Regions from separate parts of the Homo sapiens genome. Here regions 2 and 3 are each linked to region 1. Evidence: fine-mapped expression QTL. A gene starts in region 1. Each other region holds a variant in brackets. All regions are shown on one strand. Distances are between the middles of the regions. Region 1 holds the start of ERBB4 (erb-b2 receptor tyrosine kinase 4). Region 2 overlaps ERBB4 (erb-b2 receptor tyrosine kinase 4). Region 3 overlaps ERBB4 (erb-b2 receptor tyrosine kinase 4).

Region 1 (2,766 bases):
GGAAAACTACAGCTAGCCGTTTTCTTGGTGAGGTCAGAAGGACACCCTCCGGGGGCCTAAAGCGCTCCCTATCGCCACTCCCGGGGGCTTTATCACCTCAAGCTACTTCCCACGCTCCAGTCACCATCCCTGGATGGTTTCGGAAATCTCTCTGGCTCTCCAAAAGGCACCCCTTGGCCACGTCAAGACACCGGTCCTCCTCAGACCTCTCCCGTCCCACTTTCATCCCCAGGAAACTCTAGTGTCAGAAACTTTGAGCTCCATTGCACTGCAGGTGCTGTCATTAGTCCTGCAAGCCGTGGCGGGCCAGCCCCGCCGCGCTGCCTCTCGGGGTCAATTAGCCCTTTGCCTGCCCAGGTACCTGGGGCTCGAGCTCTCCAGCAAGCAGTGGCCGCGCACCCATCGCCGCTGCCGCTTTCGCCTCGGGTGGATCCAGTGACCCGCAGGCTCGGCAGCCTGGCCGGGCAGTAAACAGACAAGTTTGAAGGACTCCGGCCAATAGCAAGTTGAACTACAGGAAGAACTCTTCCCGGAGCCAAACACGGCAACCGACGGGAAGGCCGGGCTTCTGGCTCAAGTGTGCCAAGCCTTTTTTTTTTTTTTTAAGAGGTCAGGCAGGCGAGTAAGCGCCCCTCAAGTCAATGGGGAGAGGGCTCCGGGAAGCCGGCGGAAGAGGCCCAGAACTCCGGGCCCCGGACCGAGGCGCGCCCGCCTGCTGCACTCCGGCTGCCCGGGCTGGGCGCGAGTTGCGTCTGACGCCACAAGGCTCGGGCGACTGGGGGCGCAGCGGTCGCCAGCAGCACACACAGGTGCAAAGCCCGATTTTCTGAGCGCCGCTCTCCACCGCCCTTCGGGCTCGGCTCGGGAGAGGCCCAGCCAGCACCGCCCCAGGACCGCGGCCCCGGCGGTGCGGGTTCTGCCCTCGGGGACCCGACAGGGACAGAAGAGTCTCCTCTGACTGGGGATTTGGGTCTCCCATGTCCCGAACAACAGGCGCCACCAGAAGGGATCCCGCTTAGGCTCCCAAACAAAACGCTCGGGAAAGAAAAGCAGGGGGTTAAGGAGAGAAAAGAGGGACTCAGAGTGATTTTTCACGATAAATAAAGCAAACGCACACATACAGGGTAAGTTTCAAATGGAAAGAGGGGTGACCGAAAGCCCAGGGAAGAGGCCCCGGTCAAGCGGTCCCTCCACGCCTCCCGGGATGGGTGAAGAGGGCAGGGGAGCCACTCGAGGCAGCCCCGCCGGCGGCTGCAGGTTCGGCGACCGGAGTGCCAGAAGGAACCCACCTGACTGAGAATCGCTGGGCTGGACGGTCCCCGCCGCCACGAGAAGGCTCACCCAGACCCAAAGTCCTGTCGCCGGCTTCATTTTTTGGAAGTCTCAGATCCCGTGCTGACAATTACATGTCCAAATGGCATATCCCCCTTTCGGGCACGCGGAGGAGATCCCCCAGCCGGGCGCGCGTGGGGGTGCGAGGGGGGCGGGCGCGGCGCGCGCGGTGTGGCGACTCCCAGGGCGGGCGACCGAGTCCGCGCCCGCGGGTCCAGGGCCGGGGCCCGAGGAGGGGGCGAGTGTGAGCGCGTGTGTGCGCGTGTGGGAGTGTGCTCGGTGTGTGCGCTTGGCGCTCTGGGCCGGACTGTGCAGCTATTTCCCCGCGTGAGCCTTCGCTTGCTCGCTCCCTCCTCACTTTCTCTCTCTCTCACTGGTTGGTCAACAATAAAAAAGGAAGGGGGGCGAAAGGTTTCCAAAAAAAGTTGATTGCAAAGAGGCGGTAGGTTTCCGGCCTCTCCCCGCAGCCGGGCTATGTTCTGCTCCTTCTTCAGTTTCCTTGCACCTCCAGTCCAAATCGGGAGGGGAGCGGGGCGGGGGGAGCTTCTCGCTTCTCCCCGGATCCCGTCCTTCTTTTTCCTCTCAGCTTTCCTCACACTTGTCCGGCGGCTGCGGTAATTAAAGCTCCGAGCGTCATTTCCAGCGCTCCGCGGTCTCCAGCTGCAGCCCACAGAGAAATTAATAAGACTCCAGAAAAAAAAAAAAAAAAGGTGCGGGGGGCGGTGGGAATAAAACAACCCTCCACGCAACCAGGCCGGCTCTGCTCAGCCGCGCAAACCCCGCCCATGCTCTGACCCAACTAGCCACGCCCTTCCCCCCCCCTTCCAAAGGGAAATCTTATTGGCTCAGCCACTCCCCAAAATCCTGGGCCTCCGGAGTTGGGAAAACACCTGTCAGGGAAAGGGAGCCTCTTGGTGGGGGCAGGGGAAGCTGGATTTAAAGGGCTCACCGAAGCCATGCACTGAAGCACTCGTCTTCCCTCCCTGGCAGAGGCCTGGGACAGCTGGCCTGCTGAGTGGACGGACCATTGGAGGGCCGCTTACGGAAATTTTTTTTTTTTTTAAACAAGAAAGTCAGCATTTTCTCCGTTGCCCCACGGTGCTCATCTACAGACAAGACTTTCCCTAGAAATAAAAGTCAATGTTGCTTTCAGCAAAAAGCCTCCGCCCGCAGTACTCTGCCACTCATGGTCCACAATTAGAAAGTACTTTAAAAGTGTGTACAGCAAGTAACTGGTAGCCCCTGAGGATTAGGTAGTGGTAGGGGTATAATCACCGCCCCGCCTCCCGCCCCCAGTTATGCCATCTCTCCGATTACTCCCACATTTCTAAACTGACCAACATTGAGCCAAACTAAACTTTCACATTTATAAAGGCATATCCTTTGATTTTTAGATTTTATGTTTTTTTTTCACCTTTGGAGTTCATTCTTATT
Region 2 (2,766 bases), 420 kb before region 1:
TTGAAAATTCTATTTAACCCAAAATGTCTGCTTTGGCCTAAATGACATGTTACAATATTATTCTCTCTGTGTCCTTTTTAGCATTCTTTATCTCACCCTGCTAAGAGGTCATCATGTTAATGCAGTATCTAAATATGTAACATTTTACCACAAAAGCAATTTTACATGAAATTAAAACAGAAAGAATTAAAGAAAAAGTTCCATCACCATCTCTTTTTTAATGCTTGTTTACCCAACCAATAGTTTCTTGAAGGTACAGTTTCCTTGAATCTAATGATGGCGAAGTCTAGGTATTTCAATGTTGATCTTGTAATCCTCTCTTGCCACCTGTCTCAATTAGTGACATGGAAGAAAAACATAGACTACTGTGCTCAATGAATAGATACTTACAGATTACAAATGCTTGATACAGAATTCTCATTTACTTGTTCACCTTTTGAGTGACAAATATACCACTTCATTATCTTACAAAGTTTATCAGGAATACAAATTCAGGCTTGTATAGTAGGAACTATACAGTCAGATCAAAATGTGTGCATAACTGAAATATGCATGCTGTATCTGAAAATGTTGCACTTAAATCATCTTTTTTGGGAAATATGAGATTGTAATTCATGTGGACCCACTTTGTTATGTCATAGATGTTTAATTTAAATGGTGTTTTCCTCTCTAATGTTTCTAAAATATGACAAGTTTTCTCATCCTGATTCTCTCTCTCCAACATAATTTCTGCCACACAAGTCATTCTATCTGGTATTTAATAAGCTAAAAATAAATATAGATGGGTGTTGGTAGCTAGTATTTGAACAAACTATTCAGTAAATCATTTTCTAACTCAAAATAATAAGTACTGTATAAATTATCTATTTATTTTGAAATATGTACTCTTCAATGTAGGGTTTTTCTAAATCATGCTATGCAGCAGACAGCTTAGCCCGGACACAGAGTTAAAAGTACATGAGGAAGATATGGAAAACAGACACAAACATAAAAACCATCCCCCACACTGTTGGATTTAATTCTGGTCATGTGCTTCTAATTGCCAGAGGACAATGAAAAGGAAGCACTAAAGCTAGAAGTAGGCTAAACGTAAATATTTTAGAATTTCATATTAACTCTCAATGGTTGTTCATCCTTACTGAAAACAGGGAAGGAATAGATCAAGACATGGTTACTTGTTGCAACTTGAAACTCATTGTCAAACATCACTCCTGACTTTATTGTAACAAAACTGTGCTAATGAAGCCAAAGTCTTTGGCTGCAGTAAGATTGGCAGTGTTTTGCTGTCTGAGTTGCAGCTTTCTCTGCCTTCCTACAAATGTTTGTCATTGGTCAGAAGAGGAATATTCATGAGAAAGAGAATGAAATAGTATAGATCCTTTACTAGCAGTGGAAAAGTAATGCAAATTTTATGTCTTACGAAGAGTAGTTGAAAAGCAACATCCTCAGA[AG/A]AATCCCATACATATCCTAATAAAAGAGGATGACAATTCCATAGCATTATAAAATGTTAATTATTAACTAAAGACAAAGGCTATATTTGAATTTAAAAATAGGACATTTTCTCTGGTAGAGAAAAATAAACTATTTGCATGATTTCTCCAAAGTTTTTTTAAAAAAAAATAGAAATTTTTAGATGGCATTATTTCTTGTACATTCAAAAACAGCCATATAGCTCTGCCAAATATATATAAAAGCAAATTATGTTTTTCAAATGTGTTACCTTTTCATAATAACATGCATTTGTTATTCATTATCTGAGAGAAGTTATCTTTTTTAATCTTTTTGCTTCAAAAAACTATACTTTCTGACTTTTTCAAAGTCATTGCCTTTTACTATCAATAATAGAGTATTAATGTTATCTTAAAAGGCATCTTTATATATTACTTTATTTTTATTCATTTATTAGAAATAAAAGACATGTATAATGATTAAAATTTAAGGTTTCTAGACTACAGCATAAGGAGTTCCAATGAATTACGATATTGTAACTATTCCACATCCATGCATCAACTGTTAAATAAATTCATCTCCTTATAATCTTAATGTATACTATTTCTAAAATAATTTGCACACAACTAAATTCAAGCCACAGATTAAAAATTATTACCCGTTATAGCAATGACTGAGGATAGGTGTTAACACTCACTATATGATCTACATTTCATAGTATACTTCTTTACACATAATTGACACATTATAGTTATTTGCTTAAAGTTAATATATAAAACAGAAAATAAATTTAAAATGTAAAAGCTGGTGGGTCAGGCACCTTTTTAGAAGCACTGAGTTATTAAGTGCCAGCAGTAGCAAAGAAGACCAATGGAATGACAAAGGAGAGAAAGCTCCCAAGAATTCTAATGAGGGTAAAAGGTCTAATAGTTCATTCCCATTACTTACTACATTTTGCCTTGTTTTAAAGAGTTCACAAAGTGTAAGACAATAGCACAAAATCTGTGATTTTTATGCCTCGCTGCTTTCTATTATATGTCTTAACCTTGTGATGGTGATAAAATACATAATAAATAAGTTTTAGGGCCTTTTTCTAGCCAGCAATGTGGTTCCTTGGTAGTTGAATGTTAAACATAGTAAACTGGATTTCTCTTCCCAAAAAGAAATGCAAGAACTGGAGGTCAGAAGAAAGCTGGCATGAAAGGTGTTTACAGAGATAAGCATCAAGATTGCTGTAATAAAAGCGTCTTGAAAAGAATGCATTTAAAAGCATTTCAACAAAATGTATCTAACAAAGATTAAGGAAAGTATCTACAA
Region 3 (2,766 bases), 84 kb before region 1:
AAGTTTAAAATTCATTTGACCAATTAATTCCTCTCCACAGTGCTTATCTACATACTAGAAATATTAAAATAAGAGATAAAAAGTTAAAATTTGTTTTTAAAACATAAATATTTTAAGACATACTACAATTATTTCCATTCAAGGAAATGTAAAAGGTAGCATTACTAATATAGTTCTCAAAACTGTATAATTTCTAATAGAAAAATTTAGTTCTCTGTTAACATTTGTTAATTTATCTTACTGGAACAAATAGACCCTACAATGAGATAAAACATGTTCAAACTCTTGCTCTGACATTTTAAAGTTGTATAACTTGGGGCAAATCACTCGACTAGTCAAATACTTCTTTTCAACTAGAAAACAGGGATTATATCTACATACCCACAGGATTGTTATGAGGATTTTCTGACTATAAAAATGTTATATGATGATAATCAAGTATCAAGCATATAACTCTATAGGTGTTGCTTCTTATATCTTCCCCTTACCCCCTCCGCATATAGACTCTAACCCTTGCAAGTCTACTTTGTAAAGAAAGACCTACATTGATTTCCCATTTAAGGTCCATGGGACAAAAAGAGATGCTCAAAGGCAGACAGAAGTGATACAAACTCCTTCTGCCTTCAAAAATGGAGATATTCAAGAATGCACCCAAGCTATATCTAGCAATTGTACTCATTGATAGAACAAGTAAGAGAATTTCCAAAACAAATAACACATGATCAACATTGCACTTGTTAGGTTCAGTGTTTTGTTTTTTGTTTAAATAGGGTTCTTATTTAAATATATTGCATTGATATCTACCAAAATTTGATATTAGGTTAATTTCTTTTGTTTTTGTGAGATTTGTGTTAAGCAACTTGTCACCTCTTTGTATAGCAAACGAGGTATGCTTTTTAATGTTTCCATATGATTATTACACCAGGGTCTTTTGTTATTGTTGTTATTTTAAAATTTTAAAATCATTTTACCTAGTTACCATAGAAATGTTAGTTACACATTGCTAAAAGAAATCATGAAATGAGAATGTAGGACTACAGATTTTAATCATGTTTAACATATTTAAACGTAGTTTTATCAACCTGTCAGACATCTTTGACAAAGAGTACTAGAAAAAGTATTTTCTCTTTTCTTTCCAGAATCACTGGGTGCATGAATTGCAAATCTTCCATATATAAACAGAAACAATACTATATTCCTTAACTTTTTTTTTTTTTTTAGACAAAGTCTCACTCTATTGCCCAAGCTGGAATGCAGTGGTGCGATCTCAGCTCACTGCAACCTTCACCTCCCAGGTTCAAGCGATTCTCCTGCCTCAGCCTCCC[C/T]AGTAGCTGGGACTACAGGCATGCACCACCATGCCCAGCTAATTTTTGTATTTTTAGTAGAGATGGGGTTTCACTATGTTGGCCAGGCTGGTCTCAAACTCCTGACCTCATGGTCTACCCGCCTCGGCCTCCCAAAGTGTTGGAATTACAGGCATGAGCCACCATGCCTGGCTATATTCCTTAACTTCTATAACTTACTGTGGTGACGCACTAGGAAGTTGGCAATTTGTCTTCTTTTCCACTGAGAAGACAGACTAATTTAAGACAATTTCTCTTTCACACAACCCAAAACATGCTGTCATATTGAAAGACTCAATGAATGCTTAGCATGAAAATGCCAATTTTAAAAGCTAGCTATTATCTGTGGGTTTTCCCACCTCTGCACTTGATATATTTCAGAGGAGAGTATTTATGCATAAACCACAGACTTTGTTAGAATCTCTATAATAATATGAAAACTTTTGATTTGTGAGCTCCTGTGGAAAAATGAAAATTATTTCTGCAATAAATAATATTTTATCTGTTCTAAAATAGCTTAATGATTCCCATAAGTCTATTATGAGAACTCTTCATTAATCAAAATTTTCACTTCTAGTAGACATAATCACAATCTATTAAATTTATATTTCCTCCAGTGCTAGGAGTAAGAGCAGCAAATAGGACCAATGTAATCAAGTATTGTGGAGAGCACATCAACTGTATAGGTAGTTAAATCACTTTCACTCTAGGTCTGTTTCCACATCAACAAAGTGAAGCAGTTGGACTCAATTTTTGTGAAAACCAGCTTGATTCTACAGTTCCTTTAGGTTTTTTTTTTATTCTTCTTCTTTTAATAAAACTCAGGAGAAATGACCGCCACCTCACTTCATTTTAGGGAAAACAATGTGTGACACACATTATAAAACAGAATGCAAAGTGTCAATATTATTATGATATTAAGATGTAATATTCATTTAGCATGACGAATTTGATCCAAATCAAATAGGTCGTGAGAAATTCTCCATCTTCCCACCTTTGGGGGCTAAGTCATAACTTAATGGACCTTGCTGCTGTATTTGAATTGAGGACTTCATTACCTTTTTCCATTCAAGAAACAGTAGAGACTTTTGTTTACATGATGCTATTTTCTCATTTTTCTCCCACCTTTCCAACAACCTGATCACCTTCAAGGGGTTATTTTTAACACCTAGGTGCCTCCCAGGATGTAAGGCTTCAATCATTCAATCACCTATTATGCTTCTTTCCATTCTCTCATTAGGTGATCTCATGTATGAATATGCATCACCCTCCTAATCTTATCGTTTTCTCAGTGTCAGTAGCAGCCTCTAGCCCTGAGTTAGCCAGTAGAACTTTCTGCAATGATGAAAATATTCTCTCTGCATTGTCCAATATGGTAGCCACTAGCCACATGGCTGTTGAGCATGCAAAATGTGGCAAGTAA

What was found. PIP is the estimated chance that this variant, and not a neighbour inherited with it, causes the effect.
Region 2: its variant is the best candidate, but not a certain one, in a credible set for the expression of ERBB4 in lung (TOPMed, PIP 0.52).
Region 3: its variant is the best candidate, but not a certain one, in a credible set for the expression of ERBB4 in tibial nerve (GTEx, PIP 0.69).

What each region holds. Positions count from the first base shown.
Region 1 is chr2:212,537,160-212,539,925 of GRCh38, forward strand. ERBB4 (erb-b2 receptor tyrosine kinase 4) reads right to left here and starts at 1,643. Exons shown (of 28, transcript NM_005235.3): 1 at 1,290-1,643. The coding sequence starts at 1,371. RefSeq lists an enhancer at 174-674.
Region 2 is chr2:212,117,110-212,119,875 of GRCh38, forward strand. All of the region lies in intron 2 of ERBB4 (erb-b2 receptor tyrosine kinase 4), which reads right to left. Among named protein-coding and RNA genes, the nearest start is that of MIR548F2, 310 kb to the right of the region's middle. The variant AG/A (reference allele first, on the strand shown) is at 1,451.
Region 3 is chr2:212,452,741-212,455,506 of GRCh38, forward strand. The region is part of intron 1 of ERBB4 (erb-b2 receptor tyrosine kinase 4); the gene reads right to left. Among named protein-coding and RNA genes, the nearest start is that of MIR548F2, 28 kb to the left of the region's middle. The variant C/T (reference allele first, on the strand shown) is at 1,326.